Regions from separate parts of the Homo sapiens genome. Here regions 1 and 3 are each linked to region 2. A link means that fine-mapping ties the variant in region 2 to the plasma level of a protein whose gene starts in the linked region. Region 2 holds a variant in brackets. A gene starts in each other region. All regions are shown on their forward strands.

Region 1 (8,185 bases), not on the chromosome of region 2:
ACCTGAGTCTTTCTTCAGTGCATTTCATACCCTAGTTTTAAGAAATTTGAGCATTTTAAAGGAAATTAGAAATTTGAGTCTAGCCAAATCTCTTAATCTGCATATAGCAGGGCAGGTTCTCTAGCCCTTTCACTGACAGAGTTCCTTTCCATTCCACCCATTATTTAGAAGTTATGCTCTAAGAGATTATCAATAGTAACAGAGAGAGGCCAGTTTGTCTTATAGGTACTGGGTTCCCACATGAAAGATATGAGGTTGTGGGCAATGCATTTTCCCTTCAGTGAGCCAACAGGCAGTTTCAAATAGCTATCAGTTTATTATCTAGGAATTACAGTACTCTTTTTGGTCAGGTAAAATGTAGAATACTGTACCCTTCTTCCCCAACACCCAAATAAAGGCAAAACCATCTACCTATAAAATGCTTCTGCAAATCATTTAGATATTATCATATTTTAAGAGCTATTAAAGAATGCTTCTTAAATAAGAAGACTACCGAATTATAGAAGTCCAAAAACAGTACCAAATTATGAAGAGGTGGTGTTCCACACTGTGAAATCTGAGGGCTTTTAAATTAGTATTTTTACTTATGCAACTCCTTTTTCCCCACGCTTAACAGTGAACACAGGAAATATATTTTCACTTGTTCAGTCTCTTAATACTGAGCATCTCTTCTGTGCCAAGCATGGTCAACATCTAGAGACACAATGCCAAATTCGAACATGGTCCTTGCCCTTAAGGAACTTGGTCTAGGCCAGGCGCGGTGGCTCATGCCTGTAATCCCAGCACTTTGGGAGGCCAAGGCGGGCGGATCATGAGTTCAAGAGATTGAGACCATCCTGGCCAACACGGTGAAACACCATCTCCACTGAAAATACAAAAATTAGATGGGTGGTGGCGCATGCCTATAGTCCCAGCTACTCGGGAGGCTGAGGCAGGAGAATCGCTTGAACCCGGGAGGTAGAGGTTGCAGTGAGCTGAGATGGGGCCACTGCACTCCAGCCTGGCAACAGAGCAAGACTACGTCTAAAAAAAAAAAAGAAAAGAAAAGAAAAGAAAAGAAAAGAAAAGAAACTTGGTCTATATGCTCTGAGGGAGAACTTACAGGGTGCTTTGAGAGCATGAAGGAGGGTCTTCTAACCTAGCAGTGGGATCGGGGACTGAAGACAATTAGAGGTTTCTGAAAGAACTGATGTATAAATTGAAATCTGAAGGATTATCAGGGAGTTCATGGGAGAGGGGTTGGTGTAAGAACCACAGAGTGTTCTAAGCGAGAGAATAACACACACAAGGTCTAGAAGTGAGAGGGAAGTTAGCCTATTTCAGAAATGGAGAGAAAATCAACATGGCTATAGTTTAAGTTGCAAAAGAGGGGATAACTGACCAGCCATGGGGCTGCAGAGGTAAGCAGAGGCAAGCTCACAAAGGCTTTGTAATAAATGGAGGAATTTGGGCTTAAATATAAGAGCAATGGGAAGCTGTTGAAGAGGTTTTAAACAAGAGTGGTAAGAGACAAAATCCGTTTCAATCACCTCTTAAATAAATGGTTAGATCAGAAGAGCACTTCTGAATTATGGGAGTCCAAAAACAGTACCAAATTATGAAGAGGTAGTGTTCTACGATGTGAAATCTGAGGGCTTTTACATAAATATTTTTGCTTTCCAAACACTGTAGGAGACCCTTAACCTCATTAAATGGAAGCCCTTGACAACAGTCCTTTATTCCAGATGAGCACAACTCAGGAATTATCCATCTCAAGCTTATGATAGAAATAGTACCCCATGTCAGAAAAAAAGTACAAAGGCAGGATTTTACCTCATAGTATTCCACATGAAAGCACAAATTAGTCTCAATCACACATCGGCATCATAGGAAAATCTCAGAATTTCAGTATTGGAAAGAATGTTAAAGATCATTTGGTCCAACACCTTCATTTTACAGATGAAGGCAGTATACAGATTATTTCTTATACAAGACTGTGGATTCTGCCTTGGGCTCTCTCTCCCTCAGATCTTTCATGAAGGGGGGAAGTCAGCTTGGCATGTCATGAGTAGCCCTGTGGAGAAGCCCAGGTGACAAGGAACTGAAGCCTCCCACCGCCTGCCAGTGAGGAACTGAGGCCTGCCTGCTGGCCATGTGGGTGAACTTGACAGCAAATTCTCCAGGCCCAGTTGGTTATGATAGTGGTCCCAGCTGATAGTTTGGTAAGAACCTCATGAGAGACCCTGAGCCAGACCACCTTGTTAAGCCACTCTTAGATTCCTGACTTCAGGAACTGTGTGAAGTAAATGTTTGTTGTTTGAAAGTGCTAAACTTTGGAGTCATTTGTTAAGCAGTAAGAGGTAACTAATGAACAGTACACAAAATTAATAAATTCTTAACAAACTTACACTATGCTTCCCTTGATATCTAAATAGTAGTTATTTTCTAAACAATAAAATGTATCTTCCTTTAAAGATACTACCAATTGTGCTCTTCTTCTTTGAAAAGAGGTGATTAAATGGCTTATAGAATAGGTGATAGGATATTTAGTCATTTAGAGGTCACTGACTCTAATTTAACCTGAGTTCTTGGCAACCACACATAGATAATACTGAAATTTGTTTGCAAATAATTCCCTATGGCTACATATTCCCATTTTAATGTAGCTGTTTTTTTTAAATCTCCGTACATACAAAAATATGAACTTAAATTAAAATTACCCTTTCTTCTTAGTTCTAAGCAGCCTTAGTAGGATGCTGAGTAAGGGGGAAACAACAGCCTATCAATTGATGATGATGACCATATGTAAAATAATCACTTTTCTAATTTAATAAAACCTCCAAAGTTTTGTCCTTGGAAGAAAAACCTCCCAGTGAGGAGGAATAGCAATTGAAGTAAACCTGGCCCCTCTTCTAAGTTTTGTCTGCCTTTTATATTTTCAATCCCATTATTCATTCAGCATTCCATCAAGAAATACTCACTGAGCCCTTTCCACATACCAGACACGGATAACAATAACGAACTAGATAGACAAGGCTCCACCTTCATACACATTTTTATCTGGGTATAGGAAAAAGAAATTAAGCAATTACAATATAGTGGTAATCATTAGGGAAGAAAAGTAGAGGGTGCAGTGGAAGTACCTAGCAGGATACCTACCCTAGTACATTGGTGGGAAGAGATATAGGGGTGTGGAGTGGGACATGTGAGAGAGTCTAGAAAAAGCTTTTTTGTAACTGACATCTAAGCGTAATGTTAAGATGTCAGAAGGTATTTCAGGCAAAAAGAACTCCCCGTACAAAGGCCTGAAGGTAAGTGAGTTACATTTAGAAACTTAGAAGTTCAGCTTGGCTGCAGCATAGCATTGGGGTAGTGTAGCCCCAAAATGGATACAATTCCCTCTGCTGGGCTTCCCTGTAACAGAGTTGACATGGTGGAGAAATTAAAAAATAACAAAGCTTTAGGCTCTGACCTCTTGCACATTATGCTGCCTGAAAACATTTATGTTCCAGATGCAGAAGGCTAATCAGTCTGGCAAGAATTCTGAGGTTGGAAAAACCTGCTTTGAATCCCAGCTTGAGACCAGTAATACCCACAACAGGTTGTGTAGAGGTTAGGTGAAATAATAAATGTGAAGCATCTTACACACACTAGGTGCTCAAATAATTCTCTCCCTTCAGTTACCTTGCTTCTGAGCCCCCAGCTGGACTCTGAGCTGAGGACACCATGTCACCATCCACCACACATGACCCCATGACTTGGCAGAGGACGATGCTTTTCTTGGCCATCTCTATGTCCATCTCATTCAGTTCTAGTCTCTACCCTCTTCTTTAGAGGAACTGCAGCATTCATAAAACAAGAATTATAGCCACACGCACCTGAGACTTGTTCCATTACACTAATTGTACTTTATATTTGTATATGTACTTGATCTCAATTATTCCTTTTGAGAACATCATAAGGTTGAGTATTGTAATCACTATTTGGCAGATAAAAGCCCTAGGTTCAGAGAGGTACGTGATTTATCTTGACTGAAGCTTTGAATGTAGCTCCTCATTTTCTAAACGAGTTCTGTCAACCCTACAAAGGCTGCCTCCCAGCAAATACTGCAATGGGCATATGTTTTAAGGTATATTTGCACTTTTTTTAAACTTTTAAGTTCAGGGGTACATGTGCAGGTTTGGTACATAGGTAAACTTGTGTTATGGGGGTTTGTACAGATTATTTCATCACCCAGGTATTAAGCCTAGTACCCACATTAGTTATTTTTCCTGATCCTCTCCCTCCTCCCACCCTCCACCCTCCAATAGGCCCCAGTGTGTGTTGTTCCCCTCTATGTGTCCATGTGTTCTCATCATTTAGCTCCCACTTATAAGTGAGAACATGCAATATTTCGTTTTCTGTTCCTGTGTTAGTTTACTTGCAGTTTCTTTTAAAAGTTATTAAGACTCAGAGAAACATAAACTTTTACAACTATATACCTATTCATCAATATACAACTGTATAACTATATACTCTTTCACACATATTTTAAGTTCTCTGTGTAAAACTAAAGTTGGGGGGTGGTAGTGGTGGCAGGATGTTCTCAGAATACTAGGGCCTTCAAAGGACCATCCTCAATACTTTGATGATAGGTATCACTTTCCATTTGCATACTTGCCCAGCTATGCTCATAACAGTAAAAATAAAGCTTCCTACCTTCTTAAGAATAAAAAACTGTCTCCCCTGTGAAAATAACACAAGTGAAAGACTTAATTATTCAGGTGGACTTCAGCTGCTGATTTCAAATGGAATTATTCTCTTATGATCACAGGATGCCTTGTAAGTTACCTGTTTCAAGCCCAGTCTCTGCCTAGGGAACTGTCTCCTATGAAAAGGAGTCCGGGTGGACCATGGTGGCTCATGCCTGTAATACCAGCATCTTGGGAGGCCAAAAAGGGAGGATCGCTGGAGGCCAGGAGTTTGAGACCAGCCTTGACAACAGGACCAGATAATAGACCCCGTCTCTACAAAAAATAAAAAAAAAATTAGCTGGGCATGATGACTCACACATGTGGTCCTAGCTACTCGGGAGGTTGAGGTGGGAAGATCACTTGAGCCCAGGAGTTCCAGGCTGCAGTGAGCTATGGATGTGCCACTGCACTCCAGCCTGGGTGACAGAGCAAGACCTCAACTCAAAAAAAAAATAAATAAAAAAGAAAAGGAGTCCACCTCACTTCTGAACAGTTCAAGTTGAGTCCATAAATGAGCCTATTTCTGTCTTCCAAAGATATCCATATAAGACTTTTCCCAACCACCCCCCGCAACCTTGCTTCCTTTCAGTGTTTCTCCAAAGGTGGTGCCCAGATTACCTGGATCAAAATCACCAGGGTACTGATTAACAGGAGATTCCTGGGTCCCAACGCTGACCTGAATCATCACCAAGAAATGGTGCATTCGCTTTTCATATCACATTACCCAGCAGATTCATACTTCGTGAATTACACACTCTAGATCTCTGTCACACAAAAAAAATGGTCTTAGGCAAAATCTCTCATCTTCTACTTAAAACAACTGGTTTTAACCTAAGGGGCTGATATAAATGCTAAGTCAAGCAGTGATTTGTGTTTAACACTTGACAGTCCCTCTTCCAGGTACTCTATATAGTGGACTTTTATACAATATGATGTACAGTCCTTCAGCCAACCAATAATACACCTAACTACAATCCATTCTACATTTCCGGAACCATGCTGTTCATGAGGATATCACTTCAGATATTTTGTGGAAATTTTGAAATTATGGCATCTACAGAACTCCCTGATATACTAGCTATTGTAAGCCAAGCCAAAAAGCACATGAAGGTAGTTTGGTATAATTCTTTATCTATCTTGATAATTGAAATTGTTTCACTGTAAAACTTTACATAACTGAGCTTTGTTTTAAAGCAAAAAACTTGCAGATGTGAGACAGTACGAGAAAAAAGAATCAGCTGTTACCATCTTAAAACTTAGGATAGCCTAGGTGTGGTGGCTCACAGCTGTAATCCTAGCACTTTGGGAGTACGAGGCAGATTGCCTGAGCTCAGGAGTTCGAGACCAGCCTGGGCAACACCGTGAAACCTCGTCTCTACTAAAATACAAAAAAAAAAAAAATTAGCTGGGCGTGGCGGTGTGCACTTGTAGTCCCAGCTACGGGGGAGGCTGAGGCAGGAGAATTGCTTGAACCCGAGAGGTGGAGGTTGAGGTGAGCCAAGATCGCACCACTGCACTCTACTCCAGCCTGGGTGACAGAGTGAGAGACTCCGTCTCAAAAAAAAAAAAAAAAAAAAAAAAAAAAAAAAAAAAAAAAGAAAAGAAAAAAAACCCCAAAAAACTTAGGATAAAATCTTAAAACGTTTTGTTCGACTTAAATTTAAATTAGCAGTTTAGGATATAGTACACTGATAATGTAATTACATACATTCTGCTATAAAGGCATAGACATCTTTATTGGGAGATATGGGCAGAAAAATTATTTCCTCAGGGTGGGGCATTTGGCTAAACACTTGCCAATATCCTTTACTGTGTAATTTAGGTAACACAGGCAGAAAAGGCGTTTGAAAAGCAGAAATCAAGTGGCAAATATCAGATCTGAGGGACGCAATGAGGGTGGAGTTGAAATCCGTGGTCCTTGGATTTGAAACTTACCAGCCCGTGAACAAGGTTGGTATTGCTTTTGGCATAAGACGACAGCCTTTCTTTTCATTAGCTCAGGAGGAATACTGGCTTTCCAAGTGAGCTCCTCCAATCCAGTGATATTTGCACATCTCACCTGGGCCTTTCGGTTACAAATTCACCACCTTAAGGAGCCGTGTGAAAAAGCAAGAACAATCAATAAGAAGGAAAAAAAAAAACCCTTCAGCTATAAATCAGCCACGTGGAGCTGCTGCAGCAGCAGCGGTAGTCCCACTTCCTGGTTGGCTTCCTGAAAGCCTCTCGACAAGGGGCTCAGGGAAGTGGGTCTAAGGGAGAGGTGCAGACGAGAGCGACTCCAGGTCCAACGGAGGGGGCGGCGGGCCACGGGATCCCGGAGGGCACAGGCGTTAAGGACGGAGTTATTGTCCATAATTACAATAAAAGTTTGGGGATCTGAAAGCTTTAAGGAGCTGAGCTGCAGGGCAAAGGCTAAGAACCGGACTCGGGAAAAGTGCAAGTTAGTTACAAGGTAGCAGGGACTGTGAAGGGGGCTCGCGTGGAGAGCAGGGGACTGCGGATCTGGAAGGGGGCAGGTAGAGAGGAAGGCAGCCTGGCAGAGCGAGGCACACGGGTCAGTCGGAGCTCTGCGGTGGCCGCCAGAGGGGAGGGGGCCACGGGGAGGAGCGGAGGGAAGAGCCCGGGGAAAGGTGTAGCCGAGGGGAGTTCCGGATCTGGAGCTGGAAAGGGCAGGCAGCGGAGAGGGCGGCAGCCGTAGCGGTAGGGGTGGGGGAAAGAGGGGGAGGAGAGCCGGAGGAGGGGGAAGGAGGGAGGGGAGAGCGGTGGCGGCGGCTGCGCCGGGCTGTGAGTCTCTCGCCGCCGGAGGAAGATGAGGCTGAAGATTGGGTTCATCTTACGCAGTTTGCTGGTGGTGGGAAGCTTCCTGGGGCTAGTGGTCCTCTGGTCTTCCCTGACCCCGCGGCCGGACGACCCAAGCCCGCTGAGCAGGATGAGGGTGAGTGACCCGCCCGGCCCCCTCCGGCGGCAGCGACCGGCAACTTGTTTTGTTTGCCCGCGTGTGGAGGGAGCAGGGGCGGCGGGGTCGCGGCACGGCGTGGGCACCGCAGCTCCGCAGGTGGTGCTGGCGCAGCGCGGGCCGAGGGGGTGCCGAGCCCCGCGCACTCCGACCTCCCTGGCCGCCGCCGGCCCGCCCCCTCGCCGCCCCTTCCTCCGCTCTTCCCCGCCCCGGGCTCCGTCGCCGACACCCGCGCTGCCGCGGCAGCGGCTCGGGCGGCCGCTCTCCGCGCCGGGACTGCGGGCGGAGCGGGCGGAGAGCCGGGTCCGGGGGGCTGCGGCCGCCCGGCGTCCCGCTCTGGGGGGCCGGGACCGCAGCGCTCACGGCCCGGGGACGCGGGGTTGGTCCAGGCTGCGGCCTGTGGCGCGTGCAGGCCTGAAGGAGGCGAGATGCCGATGCCGCCACCGCTGGTCCGGTGGACCAGGCCCCTTGGTCCAGCCTCCCCTCCCGCAGCCGCCCGTCTGGGGGTGTTCGCAGC
Region 2 (8,160 bases):
GGGCTGGGGTGAGCTCCAGGCTCTCTGCAGACATTTCAGACAGAAATGGGGTCTCCCTGAGCCCTAGCCGCTGTCGGCCTGACCTATACTCAGCTCACCAAGGGCTAGGGCAGAGCAACAAAACCCCTCCGCTGGGAATGAACCTCTAAGTCGTTCCTGCCTCCTCAGTGCCCCTTTGTCCTTGGCCGTCCCTCTGTGCCTCCAACCATGTTCAAGGTTTTCAGAACAATTACTCAGGTTTGTCATCTGATTCATGGGGTGGAGTGGGGAGCTGAATTTTCTTCCTAATTCCACCGATTATGTGACCTTGGACAGCAAAGTGGCTTGCTTGAGCCTTTCTCTTTTGGAACTTGTGGTCATGACCTCAGCTTCTCAGAGTGGATGTGGGGCTCAGTGGTGCCTGGGACATGGGAGGGGGCTTGGCCATGGTGAATTTCCAGACCAGATTAAGACAGGAGTGGTTGGGGTGTGAGAGGATCCTGGCATTGAGCTCCGTAGTAGAGGAGGATGATTGATGCCCCAACTCAAGAGCCCACATCTGCTCCAAATACCAAGAAATGCTCCTTATGTTTGAAGTTCCCGGCACGGTGGCCCACCCCTGTAATCTGAGCACCTAGGGAGGCTGAGGATGGAGGATCCCTTGAGCTCAGAAGTTCAAGACCAGCTTGGGGAACATAGTGAGACCCCGTCTCTGCATATAACAAAGAAGAAATAATCAGGTATGTTTGTGCACGACTGCAGTCCCAACTATTTGGGACACTGAGGTGGGAAGATTGCTTGAGCCTGGGTGGTCCAGGCTGTAGTGAGGTATGATCATAGCACTGCACTCCAGCCTGGGTGAGAGAGCACGACCCTGTCTCAAAACATACATATATATATATATATATATATATATATATACACACACACACACATACACACATCTGAAATATGTAGATTATACATCCGAAATATGTAGATTATGAAAGTTTTGTGCAGAAAAAGAAATGAAAAGTTCTTTAATTTGAGAAGGTTGCACATCAAAGAACAAACTTGAAAGCTGACAGCCTGCTTGTGTCTAAGACTGTCCCAGGGTCATTAGGGAGGAAATTTCCACTTCTGTGTGGGACAGAAGAGGAACCCCAGGTCCTCATGGAAAGGGAGGGGGTAGGGGCTCCAGATGAAGATGAAAAGCTGTGGCCCGGCCCGGCGCGGTGGCTCACGCCTATAATCCCAGCACTTTGGGAGGCTGAGATGGGCAGATCACGAGGTCAGGAGATCGAGACCATCCTGGCTAACACGGTGAAAACCCGTCTCTACTTAAAAAAAAAAAAATAGAAAAAATTAAGCGGGCGTGGTGGCGGGCGCCTGTAGTCCCGGCTACTTGGGAGGCTGAGGCAGGAAAATGGTGTGAACCTGGGAGGCAGAGCTTGCAGTGAGCTGAGATCGCGCCACTGCACTCTAGCCTGGGGGACAGAGTGAGACTCCGTCTCAAAAAAAGAAAAAAAAAAAAGGAAAAGAAAAGCTGTGGTTCACCCTTGCTCGTGCTTGTGGACAGGAGCTGGGATATCTCTGCCCACTGACTGAAGTCCATGATCAGCATGGGGCCACCTCTCCCGTTTTTGTGTTTAACAGATTCCGCCGCCGTGCGTGGTGCCTCACGCCTGTAATCCCAGCACTTTGGGAGGCTGAGGCGGGCGGATCACCTGAGGTCGGGAGTTTGAGACCAGCCTGACCAACATGGAGAAACCCCGTTTCTACTAAAAATACAAAAAAATTAGCTGGGCGTGGTGGTGCATGCCTGTAATCCCAGCTACTTAGGAGGCTGAGGCAGGAGAATTGCTTGAACCCGGGAGGCGGAGGTTGTGGTGAGACGAGATCAAGCCATTGCACTCCAGCCTGGGTGACAAGAGTGAAACTCCATCTCAAAATAATAATAATAATAATAATAAATAAATAAATAAATAAAATCCTTGAAGTCCACCCGGCGTTCTATTGCACTGCAGCTGACCTGGCACTCAAGCCACAAGATACTGTCCTTCCTACTCATCCCTCCCCTTTCTTAAGGCAAAGGAGCCTCATGCCATGACCACTGCCACAACAGGCTTACAGGGAGAACTGCCAGTGTTCTCTTAAGCCCTAAGGGATCTTCAGTCAGCTTGTGGTGAAGGCTTCCTGGCCTGCTATTCATCCGTCATGACACTGGGCTCTGCCCAGGCCCAGGGCAGGTCCAGAAATGATCTCTAAGAGCAAAGTCCTTGAATTGAGGACCTGAGAGCCTACTTGGCACTCTATCCCCTGTTGTTGAGCTGGTACCTAAGGTGCAATACAAAGTCCCTTTTACTTTTTCTTCCACTTTTCTCACCCCACAGTCAACATGGCTGGGAAGGTGCTGAGTCTCACTTGAAGCCAGCAAGTCTCAGAGTCTCACCTAAGGCCCACGACATAGTACCTGTATATTGCTGCTGGTTATTCAGGGCCTGAGAGCTCTTCAGTTAGCAAGTGATGAATTCTGCCAGGACTAAATCCTTCCCCACAAGGCAGCAATTTCCCTTCTGGCCTAGGGTATGTGGAAAAATGTTGTCCAGGAGCTAGCATCTGGGATGGGGACCTCAGGACTCTGCCTGTTGCCCTATCTTACTGTGGCTGAGTGGGTATCCAAGATAAAAGACAAAGTCCTCTTTATTCTTCCCTCTCCTCTCTTCAATCAGAAGGAAGGAATCACTTTTGTTGCTACAAGTTGTGCTGCCTTGGGTAGTGGGA[A/G]GGATGAAACAAGTACACCCTTAGCTACGTTTGCTGATTTCTCTAAATTCACTGGCTCCAAACTCAGCACAGCACTAGGATTTTCCCAGGAATCACAGTACTTGTGGCCTAGACTCTTTCAAGCTTGTTTAAGACCCCAGACCAGGCGCAGTCACTCACACCTGTAATCTCAGCACTTTGGGAGGCTGAGGCGGGCAGATCATGAGGTCAGGAGTTTGAGACCAGCCTGGCCAATATGGCCAAATCCCATCTCTACTAAAAATACAAAAATTAACTGGGCATGGTGGCACGTGCCTGTAGTCCCAGCTACTTGGGAGGCTGAGGCAGTAGAATCGCTTGAATCTGGGAGGCAGGGGTTGCAGTGAGCCGAGATTGCACCACTGCACTCCAGCCTGGGATGACAGAGCGAGACTCCATCTAAAACCAAAACAAAACAAAAAAACAAACCCAGAGCACTTTAGCCTGAGGTCTCAGGTGGGACTTGCTGAATCTCAAGTTCCAACTGATTTTCTGGGCAGTTCCCCTTTGGGTAGAGCTCATCAAATGCTTTCTCCATGAACGGGCATCAGTTGCAATCAGCCCAGTGTGGCTTTCCAGTGTGACAGGGCAGCATTGAGTTCAGTCCTGCCTTCTCCCTTCCCCAAGCACACAGTCGCTGCTTGGGTGACTCCAGCCTGGGTGACAGAGCGAGACTCTGTCTCAAAAAAAAAAAAAAAAGAATGCTGAAAATATACCCTAATATCTTTAATATCTTCTGACTTTTAGGGTTATGCTGAAAGGTTCACTGTTAGCCTGATGAGGTACGTCTTTTGGATGACTGGCCTATTCTCTCTAGCTGCCATGAATAATTTTCTTTCACGTTGATCTTGGAGAAGTTGATGAGTATGTTGTTTGTGGATGGTTTTGTTGTATAGTATCTCACTGGGGTGTTCTGAGTTTCCTAAATGTGAATGTTGGCTCTCTAGTGCGGTTGGGGAAATTTTTATTGATAATATTCTCAAATATGTTTCTCAAGTTGCTTGCTTCCTTTCTTACTCAGGGATGCCAATGGGTCATAGGTTTTGTCTCTTTCCATAATCCCATAATTCTCAGAGGTTTTGTTCATTCTTTTAAATTCTATTTTTTTTATTTTTGTCTGACTGCGTTGATTCACAGAAGCAGTCTTTTTTAATTTTGTTTTTATTTTTGTTTTCTGAGATGGAGTTTCGCTCTTGTTGCCCAGGCTGGAGTGCAATGGCACAATCTTGACTCACTGCAACCTCCACCTCATGGGTTCAAGCAATTCTCCTGCCTCAGCCTCCCTAGTAACTGGGATTACAGGCATGCACCACCACGTCCGGCAAATTTTGTATTTTTAGTAGAGATGGGGTTTCACCATGTTGGTCAGGTTGGTCTCGAACTCCTGACCTCAGTTGATCCGCCCGCCTCAGCTTCCCGAAGTGCTGGGATTACAGGCGTGAGTCACCACGCCTGGCCATAGAAGCAGTCTTTGAGCTCTGAGATTTTCTTCTCACCTTGGTCTATTTTGCCGTTACTACTTTTTATTATATTATGCAATTTTTGTAATGAGTTTTTCAGCTCTATAAAATCAGTTTCTTTCTTTCTTAAAATGTCTATTTCATCTTCCACCTCTGGTGTCATTTTACTGGGTTCCTTATATCCCTTGGATTGGGTTTCAACTTTCTTCTGAACCTCAGTGATCTTAGTTTGGCATCCAGATTCTGAATTCTATGTCTGCCATTTTAGCCATTTCATTAAAAATCACAGGATGGCCACGTAATAAATGAAAGTAGCACTGCACCTCTATCACCCCATCCTTCAGTCAGGATCAGCTTGGAATAAAGAGGGACTTCTCCTTGCTGGAAAAAGCTGAGAAAAAGACCTAGCAGCTTCCATCAACACTTTGGACACCTGTAGATCTCACCATTGGAGATTCCCTTTCACAGACACTAAGCACAGCTGACGGAGCTACCCAGATTCCACACAGCTGCACTCACCCAGGAGAAAAGACTGACACTGTGCCCCACTGTCCACGGCCATCACGGCTCTGGCACTATGCCATTGTGGAATGGGATCTACTTCTGGATCTCTGGGGGACACGTAGCCGCAGCATCCTTTCACTGCTGAGGGATTGTCACTGCTGAGCCAGCCTTGCCTGGTGGCCTGCCATCCCCAGGCTGAGCTGTTGCTCTACACTACCCTGTCGTGCCAAGCTGCCTAGAGCCACTCGATCCACCTTTCCCAGTGGCAGATGCATCCTGACCCTCAGGGACCGAGCTGAAGTGGAAACGGTGCCTTGGGTGTTCACAAGAGTGATGGCCTGTGCCTGCGCTAGTGTGACACGCTGTGTATTAGGGTTCTCTAGAGGGACACAACTAATGGCGTATATATGTGTGTGTGTGTGTGTGTAAAATCGTATCTGGTGTATATATATGTGTGTATATATACACATGTCAAAAATATATATGTATATGTGTGTGTATATATGTGTGTGTATATATGTGTGTGTATATGTGTGTGTATATGTGTGTGTATATATGTGTGTGCATATATGTTTGTGTGTATATATATGTGTGTGTATATGTGTGTGTATATATGTGTGTGTATATATGTTTGTGTGTATATATATGTGTGTGTATATATATGTTTGTTTATATATATGTGTGTATATATATGTGTGTATATATATAAAATCATATCTGGGGTATATATATGTGTGTATATATACACATATCAAAAAATATATATGTATATATGTGTGTATATATATGTGTATGTATATATGTGTGTGTATATATGTGTGTATATATATGTGTGTGTATATATGTTTGTGTGTATATATATGTGTATGTATATATGTGTATGTATATATGTGTGTGTATATATGTGTGTGTATATATATGTGTGTGTATATATATGTTTGTGTGTATATATGTGTGTATATATATGTTTCTGTGTATATATATGTGTGTATATATATGTTTGTGTGTATATATATATAATCGTATCTGGTGTATATATATGTACACATATCAAAAAATATATGTGTGTGTACATATATGTGTGTATATATATGTGTGTGTATATATATGTGTGTACATATATGTTTGTGTGTATATATGTGTGTGTATATGTGTGTATATATATACCCTACATATATATACCATACATATATATGTATATACACCATATCTATATGGGTGTTTATTAAGTATTAACACACTATTATACAAAAATTAGCCTGGTGTGTGTGTGTGTGTATACATATATATATATAAAATCATATATGTGTGTATATATATGCATGTGTGTATATATATGTGTGTGTATATATATGTGTGTATATATACACATACATATATATGTATATACACCATATATATATGTGTGTGTGTATATATATATATATACGAGTGTTTATTAAGTATTAACTCACACTATTATACAAAAATTAGCCCAGTGTGGTGGTGCACGCCTGTAGTCCCAGCTACTCAGGAGGCTGAGGCAGGAGAATCAGTTGAACCCGGCAGACGGAGGTTGCAGTGAGCCGAGATTGCGCCACTGCACTCCAGCCTGGTGACGGAGTGAGACTCCATCTCAAAAATTGGACTCTAGCCTGGGCAACAAGAGCAAAACTCTGCCTGTCTCAAAAAAAAAAAAAAAAAAAAAAAAGACATGATCCAGGCAACATCGATGGGGCATCACCAGGGTCTGTCCTGTCTGTTGCAGTCCACACTTTGCCCTGCTCATAGCCCCATGAACTTCATGTTCATGTCTTTTCACACTATAACTTCTTCCAGGTCTTTGCTGGACACATTAAAAAAATATATATATATATAAAATGCTTCATGAAATTTGTTAATATCCTTGTGCAGCTGCCATGCTGATCTTCTCTGTATCATTCCGATTTTGGTATATGTGCTGCCAAAGCAACAACACACTGGACACATTTATCTACAAATGAGGCAAACAAAGCATATGGGTGTGAATGGGGAGAAGTACAGTGTTCTCTGTTGTAATTGACCCCGAGGTCATCCTTTATATTTACCAGCTTTGCTGTCTATCACCCTCTCTAGGTTCTGCTTACCTTCTGCCAGAGTTCGCATGAGAAACTCTACTTGTCTCAACTATCGGCCCAATGAAATAAACATAAATTTCAACCTTGAGGCATCTGAGCACCTGATTATTGTGCCTGTTTCAGGCTTTCTTGTGGGAGTTGCCCATTGTGTTAGTTTCTTGGAGGCTGATATAACAAATTATCACAAAGTATTGAATAAAAAGAAGATAAACTTATTCTCTCAGAGTTCTGCAGGCCAGAAATAAAAAATCAAAATGTTCATATAATTTCTTCTTTCTAGAGGCTCTGAAGAAGAAACTTCTGTGCTTTTTCCTTCTTTCTTTCTTTCTTTTTTTTTTTTTTAGATGGAATCTCGCTCTGTCTCCCAGGCTGGACTGCAGTAGCGCGATCTCGGCTCACTGCAAGCTCCGCCTCCCGGGTTCATGCCATTCTCCTGCCTCAGCCTCCCCAGTAGCTGGGACTACAGGTGCCCGCCACCACACCCGGATAATTTTTTTGTATTTTTAGTAGAGACGGGGTTTCACCATGTTAGCCAGGATGGTCTCGATCTCCTGACCTCATGATCTGCCCGCCTCGGCCTCCCAAAGTGCTGGGATTACAGGCATGAGCCACCACGCCCGGCCACTTTTGTGCCTTTTTCTTAGACTTTGGTCCTTGCTGGCATTTCTTGGCATTCCTTGGTTTACAGACTTCTCATTCTAATCTCTGCCTCCATCTTCACATGGCATCCTATTCTTCTCTGTGTGTCTTCTTCATGTCTTATAAAGATGTGAGCAATATTGGATTTAGATCCTGCCCGAAGCCAGCATGACCACATCTTAACTAATTATACCTGCAAAGATCCTATTTCCAAATAAGTTCATATTCACAGCTACGGGAGGTTAGGATGTCAACATACCTTTTTGGAGACACAGTGCAAACCCCAACCCCAGTCATGGTTACCTCCAGCTATGGAGAATTCATCACTGCCACAGTGAATTATCTAAGCTGCCCAACCACCCTCTCTTCACCAAATCCTCCTCCTCATCGTTAAAGAAAATTACCCAGGCCAGTATGATATCTTTCTCCTTACCTGCTGATGTACTGTAATGAGGAAACCCAAGGAAAACCAGCTACATCATCATTTTAGGTACAGAGTAATTTTTGTGTTGTTCCCTGGTAGTGGTTTCTTACCAGGCAGATCTTCTAACCCAGGGTCACCTAAAAGTGCAGTCACAGGATGTGCACATCTCCCAAGTGTGTCATCTGTAAAGTTAGTGATAGATGCTGTTCATTAAACTCTCACTTTACTCCCAAGCCCATGCATTCTACCTGTCAAAAGACATACCATGATTTATTGT
Region 3 (8,188 bases), not on the chromosome of region 2:
AGGGCTTCACCAGGTTGGCCTGGCTGGTCTCGAACTCCTGACCTCAGTAGTCCACCCGCCTTGGCCTCCCAAAGTGCTAGAATTACAGGCATGAGGCACCGCACCCGTACGCAGCAATTTTTTATACAGAGTAAAAAAAAAAAAAAAACACTGAATCATACCTTACTGGTACAACTCTCGCACCTGCAGACTCCAAGTACTTTACATAGGACGCAGCAATATAGTATCTTCCATAGTTTTTCATGACTTTATTACGGCATTTTTGCATTAATATTCCTAATAACAAAAAAAAGTTTAGTTTCAAGCAAATTCCTTTTCTTCTTGCTCAGAAACTGAAATATATCACAGCAAAAATATCATATTTTATTATTTCAATCCACAGAATTAAATAGGAAGTCTCTCCTCCAAGTCCACCCATAGCCTATGGGAAAGCAGCAGGGGAGGCTGATCTTACTTTCAAGTAGATCTATCTCTCACCTCATTAGGGAGGCCAAATAAGCCCCCAAAGAAGGCTTACAATAGCACTTGCAGCCTTCACACAACTGTAGACCTAGAATCCATCTAAAGAATATAGATCCTTAAATTTACAAGGCTGTCACTCCTTTCCCACACATACTCACAGACACACTGATTCCCTGACAACGAAGCAAAGGAGTGAAAACATCTTCCATCCACACCTCTCCAACATTACCTTAGCCCAAGCTATCAATATCTACCCTCTCCCCACCACACTATCATAATAGACTCTTAGAAGGTCTTGTTATATCTTTTCTTAAGAAACCCCCCCAAGCTCCAAGCAGCTCCCCATGTAGAAGCAAATCGGATCATATCACCATTCCTATTCCTACAGTCATTCAATATATACTGTTGAATCATACCTCATGCCAGGCAACAAACTAGCTGCTGGGGACACATGACTATGAGTGAACCAAACAAAAGCCCCTGCCCTGTGTGCATTAATTCGAGGGTGTAGCAGGGAGGGGAAAGAGGACAAACAATAAACAAGACAAAAAGGCATAATATATAGAGTGATGGCTGGTCGTAAGCACTAAGGAGAGAAAGACGGTGGGGAAGGAGAGCCCATCTATGTAGGAAAGGACAGTCTCTTCAACACGGTGGCCAGGCAAGTCCTCCCTGAGAAGGTAAAACATGACATTTGAGCCAGGACTTCAGAGAGGTGACAGAGTAAACCACATTCATATATCTGGGAAAAGAGCAATCCAGGACAAAGGAATAGCAAGTGCAAAGGCCAGGAGTCAGATTTGTGCCTGTCACGTTGCAAGGAATCCATATTATTAGAGCCAGGTGAGTGAAAGCAGAAAGCAATAGGAAAGGACATCAGGTAGCGATAGATCAGCAAGCAGGTGTCACCACTTTGTTTAACTACCTCAGTGGGTCCCTAAACTTTAATAAACTCTGTAAGACCCGTATGCTCTGCCCCACCCATCTCTCTGGCCTCCTTTTACCAGTGAAACCCAGCCCCAGCAGAGTATAGCAACCAGTATACATCAAAACACGTCTGTCGGGTGAGTACCTGTGCCTACTCCTATTCAGCACTTCAGCATTTGGAACACTTTCAGTGTCTCTGTAGGCCACCTGATAGGAAGAGCTGTTGTCTGTATTACTCACTTTTGTATTCCCAGCTTCTTACAATTGGCATTCATCAGGTATTCAGATTAACATGTCAAACGCCAAAATTTGTTCAGTAAAACTTTTTCTCCTTACTGGTAGGTAAGATCATCTTCACTAAGGAATAACAAAGTTTGGCTAGGGAACGAAGAACTAGGAGTGTCATAGGAAATGGAGTGGTACAGGGTACATGGGGTGAGGTACCACAAAGGAGACATGGGGCATCATGGGAGCACAAGGGTACCAGAAAGAGAAGTACATCAGAGTGAGTTCCACCAACATCTCCCCTTCCCCTGGGCCCACGCATATTCACTTTTCCCATCCCTGGGAAAAGAGCTCAAGCTGTTCTCCCTGTCCCTCAAAATATGACCAAAATTCCACCAATAATTTAAGGCCATCTCACAACTTTTGTGGCTTGTCATCTTTCAATCCTTTGCACTTCCCAGAGCAAGATTGTGTACATAGTCGGTACTCAGTTAACGATGTTGTGCTGATCTCAGTGACCAAAAGCAAAGTCCCTTTTTTAAATATTTGACGCAGGGCTACCCCTGATTCTAGGAAAGGGGAAGAATCCCCTCTGCTTTTTTTTCTCTTCTCTGGACACACAATATGCAACCTGTTACATTAATTACAGCTTGAGTTAATTCGTGGAGAATCAAATCACCATGTTAAACAGCTATGAAATAAGTTCCAAATATTAGTAAGCAACCCATTTGAAAACTGGGCACTACCTATATGAAAAAACATTCATCTACTTTCTGTTTAGTTACAGAATACAGTGATAATATTCATAGAAAAAAATAGTATGAAAGGCATAATCCTACAGCCAAAATAAAACTAATCTTAATGTCCACACACAAATTTCTTTGGGCAAATTTTAACCCCAGGATGATTTCTCCTAGGTAGCTTTCCTTGGGCCTGTCTCAAATGTGTGTTTTGGTAACACAGACTGATTTTACTACCTCTTTAAAACACAAATATGTTGGAAACGAAAAATTGTGGGCTGCATTTTAACACCAAATAGAACTCACATTAGGATATCAGCCACTGTTGTCCTCTGCTACTGAACATGACAAAATCCAAGTTATACCTTAATTTCTTGATTTTCTATTACAATGCACTGGTATTTTAAATACGCCATCAATACATTTTGATGAATGCAATGCATGTACAGAATTTGTAGATGTAAATGAGTAAAACTTCCCAACTATGTGCGAAAAGGAAATGTTTTATTTTAGTAGAAATTCCTAGCTGTGTACAAAAAAAGAAAATCCGCAGGATTCTTCATGGTGCACCCTCCTCCCTCCCACCTTTAAGAGTCATATGAGTCTAAAGGAATGAACGAGGTACCTCAACCAGGTACATTTCAGTACGACCTAAATGGTGCCCAGCCCGGGTTCCTCCTTGCACCAAAAGCGAAGCACATCTGGGGGTTTTTCCCGGCGGGACGCGCCAGCTGGAGCGCGGCGGCGGGAGGCGCCCAGCGCCAACACCCAGCTCCTCCCCGTCTGCTGCGGCCCCGCACAGCCTCCTTACCGATGATGGGCTTCTTGGCGGTGTCGCCGTGGGGTCTAGACAGCTCGAGGCTCGCCGCCCCGCAGAGTAGCAGGCCCAGCACGCACAGCAGGCAGCCCGGACTGGCCATGGCGCTCGCCGCCTCCCGCCGCCTTTCAAAAGCTCTGCGGGCGGGCGGGGGCTGCGGCAGGGACACCTCGCGGCAGCGCACTCGCGTGAGACTCGGGTGGGCGGTGCTCCGCAGCGTGGGCCTATGGGAAATGCAGTCCCGGCGCGCGCTAGGCGGCCGTGGGGCGGCGGTGGGAGGCTCTGGGAGTGCAGCCGGCGCTGCGCGCCCGCCCCATTGCTCTGTCCCCGGTCCGCGACCGCGACCGCGACCCCGACCCCCACGGGCCGCCTAAGCGGAGACTCTGGAAACGCCTGGGGCGGGTACCGGGTGGTCTCCGCGTCCTTCCCTTTCAACTGTTACGTCGATGTGGACTTCAGTCACCCGTACAAAGCTGGGCTGGCCAACCCAGGTCCTCGAGAGGGGAGGTTGGGTGTCCCCGGCCGAGTTTGGTAACCAGGCAGCGGGGAGGCTGGCAGGGGATTCTAGAAGGCGCCTGAGAACTGCGCGCCAACCGCACCGCCCCCTTGAAGGTCGGGGCCCTATCTCCGGGAATGGTGACAACGTTCGCTGTACGGACAGCCTGTGCCCCTGAATGTGAATGTCCACACTTGCTATTTGGGGGGTCGCGGCATCTGTAGGAAGTGAAGACGGGACGGCGATAGGAACACACGCACAGGCGCATCACTAGGGTCAGAACTGGGCCAACTCCGGGCGTCTACTTTGAAGCGGGCACGCCCAGGCCACGCCTGCAAACGGCGTCAGCTTCCTCTGATCAACCGCGGTCAGCGCCATCCACCGACCACCACTAAGCCTATCCACCGGGGCAGAAAAGATGACTGGTTCCTATTCGTTAAAACTGTTGATTGTTCCTAAATACATGGATATATAGCTTGTACTCAGTGAAAGTTTCCATCTATAAGGGCCAACTGAAATTCAGCATAAAACAAGAATATTTGAAAACCTGCTACATCAATGCTCAGTATTAAGGGTGAAAACGTAAATTGGACAGTCTTTTTCACAAGAGGTTTAAATTCAGTAAGGAAAAAAGGCAGAAAGCGTGACTCGTAGAGACAACAGGAACAATTTTAGCATGTTGCAAGAAGAGTAAATGCAGTGAATAGTCTGGTTTAACAAGAAAATAACGCTTCTGTAGAAGGGTGTGGTGAGAGGTAAGCAACAAAGGATGTGATGAAAGACATGAAAGGGCCGAGCTGGTTTTGAGCATGATTAAATAGACAAGTAGCCTTGTAAATATGAACTTGTGGTGCCAGAATAATTGACTATCCACATAGGAAAAATTTTTTACCCGGCGTTACACACAAAAATAAACTCGAGGTGAAGTGCATATGTAAATACGAAAGCAAAATATTATACTTTGATAAGAAAATATATAAATATATCTTCCTAACTTAGGCTGTTGGAAGAGTTTCATAAAACATTAAAAATAAAAATGTTAATTAAAAATTGACTATATAAGAAAATTAAAGTTAAAGCACAAACTTGGAAAATATAGTTATAAAATATAAAGTATTTCTAAAATATGCGAAGAAATAATAAGAAAAATGACACAATAGAAAAATGGAAAAAGAATGTGAAAAGCAAACCAAACTTTCTGTAGTCATCAGAAAAATGCAAGATAATATGTCACATCCATTAGACTGTGTAGAAAAACAGCCTGTTTCCTGGCAAGAGTGACACCATCTTGAAGCAAAACTATCCTGGGGACTGATGTTTGACCCACAGCATACCGAGGTGTTCTGCAGCAAAGGTCTTTAAACAATGCTCATAACATATATAACCCCTCATAAAGATGCTTATCTAACGTCCCCAGTGATCACAATAGTCTAAGAGCTAACTAGTTGCACTTGTCTTTACCCTAGAGGCTTGCTAAATAAAGCATACTTTCTGGAGGGCAAGTGCAGGGGTCGCTTCTGTTTGTCTCTACTAAGTATTTCTTTCTGAGAAATTCGATTGGTCAGCCTCTTTGGTCTCCCAGCTTCCTCCATCTTTGGAAGCAGGTTTCTGTAAATTGACAAAAATGTAAGCCTTTGATAATAAGTCAAGGATGTAGTAAAATGACAGTTCTCTGCATTTCTTGTGGAATTGTAATTATTATAACTATTTTTGAGAAAAATTAAGCAATATCTGGTAAAGGTGAAGATCTAAATGTTCTGTAACCCAGTACATTCTGGATATAAGTGTGTACCTAGATTAATGCGTGCTCATGTGAACAAAAAAAATATGTGTAAGTATGCTCTTTGGAGCATCTTTTTGTAATAGTAAAATATTAAATGTAAATGACCAATGTCATAAAGTTTTTCCCATGTGTTTTCTTCTAGTAATTTTACAGTTTCAGGTCTCATATTTAACTGCTTAATTCACTTTAGTTGATTTTTGTTCATGGTGAGAGATAAGGGTCTAATTTCCAGATTTTCCAACACTGTTTATTGAAGAAGATGCCCTTTCCCCATTGTGTGTTCTTGGCACCTTTGTCAAAAATCAATTGACAGTATATGTATTGGTTTATTTTTGGGCCTTCTATCCTAGTGCATTGGTCAATGCCCGTAATTTTATGCCAGTACCATGCTAGTTTGATTAAATTACTATAATTATAATATGTCTTGAAATCAGAGTATGATGGCTTCAACTTTGATTTTTTTTCTCAAGATTGTTTTAGGTATGTGGGGTCTTTTGTGGTTTCATACAAATTTAAGGATTTTTTTACATTTATGTGAAAAAAGTGACACTGGAATTTTGTAGAGATTACAATGAATCTGTATATTGCCGTAGGTCAGTCATATAGACATGTTCCCAATTTTAATTCTTCCAATCCATGAACATGAGATATCTTTCCATTTGCTTGTATTTTCTTATTTACTTGTATTTTTATGTGTTTTATAGTTTTCAGTGTACAGGCCTTTTACCTGCTCATTAAATTTACACCTAAGTATTTAATTTTTTGTTACTATTTTAAAGGGGATGGTCTTGTTAATTTCATTTTAATTTGTTATTACTATATAAAAATGCTGCTGACTTTTATATGTTGATTTTGTATTCTGTAACTTTACTGTTAATTTATCAGTTCTAATAGTTTTTTGGTGGATTCATATATAAGATCATGTCATAGAAAATAGGGATATTTTCACTTCTTCATTTCCTATTAGGCTTCAAATTTTTCCTCTTGCCTAATTGCTTTAGCTGGGACTTACGGTACTATATTGAAAAGAAGTGGTGAGAGTAGGCATACTTGTCTTGTCACTGATCTTAGAGGAAAAGCTTTCAGTGTTTTACTGTTGAGAATGATATTAGCTAAGGGTTTGTCATATGTAGCCTTTATTGTGTTGAGGTACATTCCCTCTATACCTATACCCAATTTGTTAAGAGTTTTTTTTGTTGTTGTTTTTGTTTTTTTTTTTTTGAGATGGAGTCTTGCTCAGTTTCCCAGGCTGGAGTGCAGTGGCGTGATCTCAGCTTACTGCAAGCTCCACCTCCCAGGTTCACGCCATTCTCCTGCCTCAGCCTCCAGAGTAGCTGGGACTACAGGCGCCCACCACTACACCAGGCTAATTTTTTTGTATTTTTAGTAGACAGGGTTTCACTGTGTTAGCCAGGATGGTCTCAATCTCCTGACCTCGCCATCTGCCCGTCTTGGCCTCCCAAAGTGCTGGGACTACAGGTGTGAGCCACCGCGCCTGGCCTTGTTAAGAGTTTTATTATAAAAGGATGTTGGGATTTTTCAAATGTTTTTTCTGCATGTATTGAAATCATTATATGATTTTTATCCTTGATTAATGTGGTATATCACATATTGATTTGTGTGTGTATATATGTCTATTATAGTAGATATAGGCAATGTATATTGTAATGTCTCCTCTTTCTTTTCTAATCTTGTTTGAGTAGGCTCTTGTTTTCCTAGTTAGTCTAGCTATGGGTTTGTCAACTTTATCTTTTCAAAAAACCAACTTAGTTTTGTTGATATTTTCTATTGTTTTTCTAGTCTCTATTTCATTTATTTCTGTGCTGATTTTTGTTATTTCCCCTCTTCTGCTATCATTGGGCTTAGTTTATACTTATTTTTCTAGTTTCTTGAGTGGTAATGTTAGATTATTTGTAACCTTTCTTTTTTTATATAGGTGTTCATTGCTATGAATTTCCCTCTTAGGATTGCTTTTGCTGTCTCCCATAAGTTTTGATACATTGTCTTACCATTTTCTTTTGTCTCATGGTAATTTTTTATTTTCTATTTGCTTTCTTCTTTAACCTATTGGTTGTTTAGGAGCATGTTGTTTCATTTCCACACATTTGTGTATTTTCCAAGATATCTCCTGTTACTGATTTCTGGTTTCATTCCATTGTGATCTCAAAAGATACTTGATATGATTTCAATTCTCTTAAATTTGTTAAGATTTGTTTTGTGCATTAACATATGGGCTATCCTGGAGAATGTTCTATGTGCACTTAAGAAGGATGTGTATTTTGTTGCTATTGGATACAGTGTTCTGTATATTTCTGTTTGGTCTATTTACTCTAAAGTGTAATGCAAGTCCATAGTTTCTTTATGGATTTTCTCTCTAGATGATCTGTCCATTACTGAAAATGGAATATGGAGAGCCCTACTGTAATATTATTAAATTATATTTTTTCCTTTAGATCATTTAGTAATTGCTTTATGTATTTAGGTGCTCTGATTTTAGGTGGGTGTATATTTACAATAGTTATGTCTTTGTGGTGATTTAACTTCTTTGTTATTATATAATAGCCTTCTTTTTCTCTTTTTATAGTATTTAACTTAAATCTATTTTGTCTGATATAAGTGTAGCTACCTCTGCTCTTTTCGTTTCTGTTTGCATGGAATATCTTTTCCATCCCTTCACTTTCAGTCTATGTGTGTCCTTATTACTAAAGTGAGTCTCTTGTGTGCAGCTTATGATTAGA

Alleles and levels. Positions count from the first base shown, and alleles are read on the strand shown. Strength reflects both the effect of a copy and how common the allele is.
For the plasma level of the protein whose gene starts at base 7,497 in region 1, allele A in region 2 goes with a higher level than allele G (strong association).
With allele G in place of A in region 2, the plasma level of the protein whose gene starts at base 3,312 in region 3 is lower (strong association).

Evidence for each region. PIP is the chance, under the fine-mapping model, that this variant and not a neighbour inherited with it causes the effect. Protein levels are from antibody-based Olink assays in UK Biobank. Linkage for the fine-mapping came from a reference panel and not from the study's own genotypes, which makes the PIPs less certain.
Region 1: GALNT7 starts here. The variant in region 2 is fine-mapped to the plasma level of the GALNT7 protein (UK Biobank, PIP above 0.99).
Region 3: GGH starts here. The variant in region 2 is fine-mapped to the plasma level of the GGH protein (UK Biobank, PIP above 0.99).

What each region holds. Positions count from the first base shown.
Region 1 is chr4:173,161,315-173,169,499 of GRCh38, forward strand. GALNT7 (polypeptide N-acetylgalactosaminyltransferase 7) reads left to right here and starts at 7,497. Exons shown (of 12, transcript NM_017423.3): 1 at 7,497-7,647. The coding sequence starts at 7,522. It overlaps GALNT7-DT (GALNT7 divergent transcript), which reads right to left. Exons shown (of 7, transcript NR_134242.1): 1 at 7,550-8,185; 2 at 6,648-6,799; 3 at 5,331-5,476; 4 at 4,810-4,985; 5 at 3,664-3,818; 6 at 2,979-3,039. RefSeq lists enhancers at 4,608-4,687, 6,766-6,865 and silencers at 7,176-7,225, 7,296-7,415, 7,646-8,185.
Region 2 is chr19:54,257,379-54,265,538 of GRCh38, forward strand. It overlaps the pseudogene RNU6-1307P. Among named protein-coding and RNA genes, the nearest start is that of LILRB5, 4.2 kb to the left of the region's middle. The variant A/G (reference allele first, on the strand shown) is at 2,743.
Region 3 is chr8:63,035,495-63,043,682 of GRCh38, forward strand. It overlaps GGH (gamma-glutamyl hydrolase), which reads right to left and starts at 3,312. Exons shown (of 9, transcript NM_003878.3): 1 at 3,166-3,312; 2 at 162-276. The coding sequence starts at 3,274. RefSeq lists a silencer at 3,346-3,705.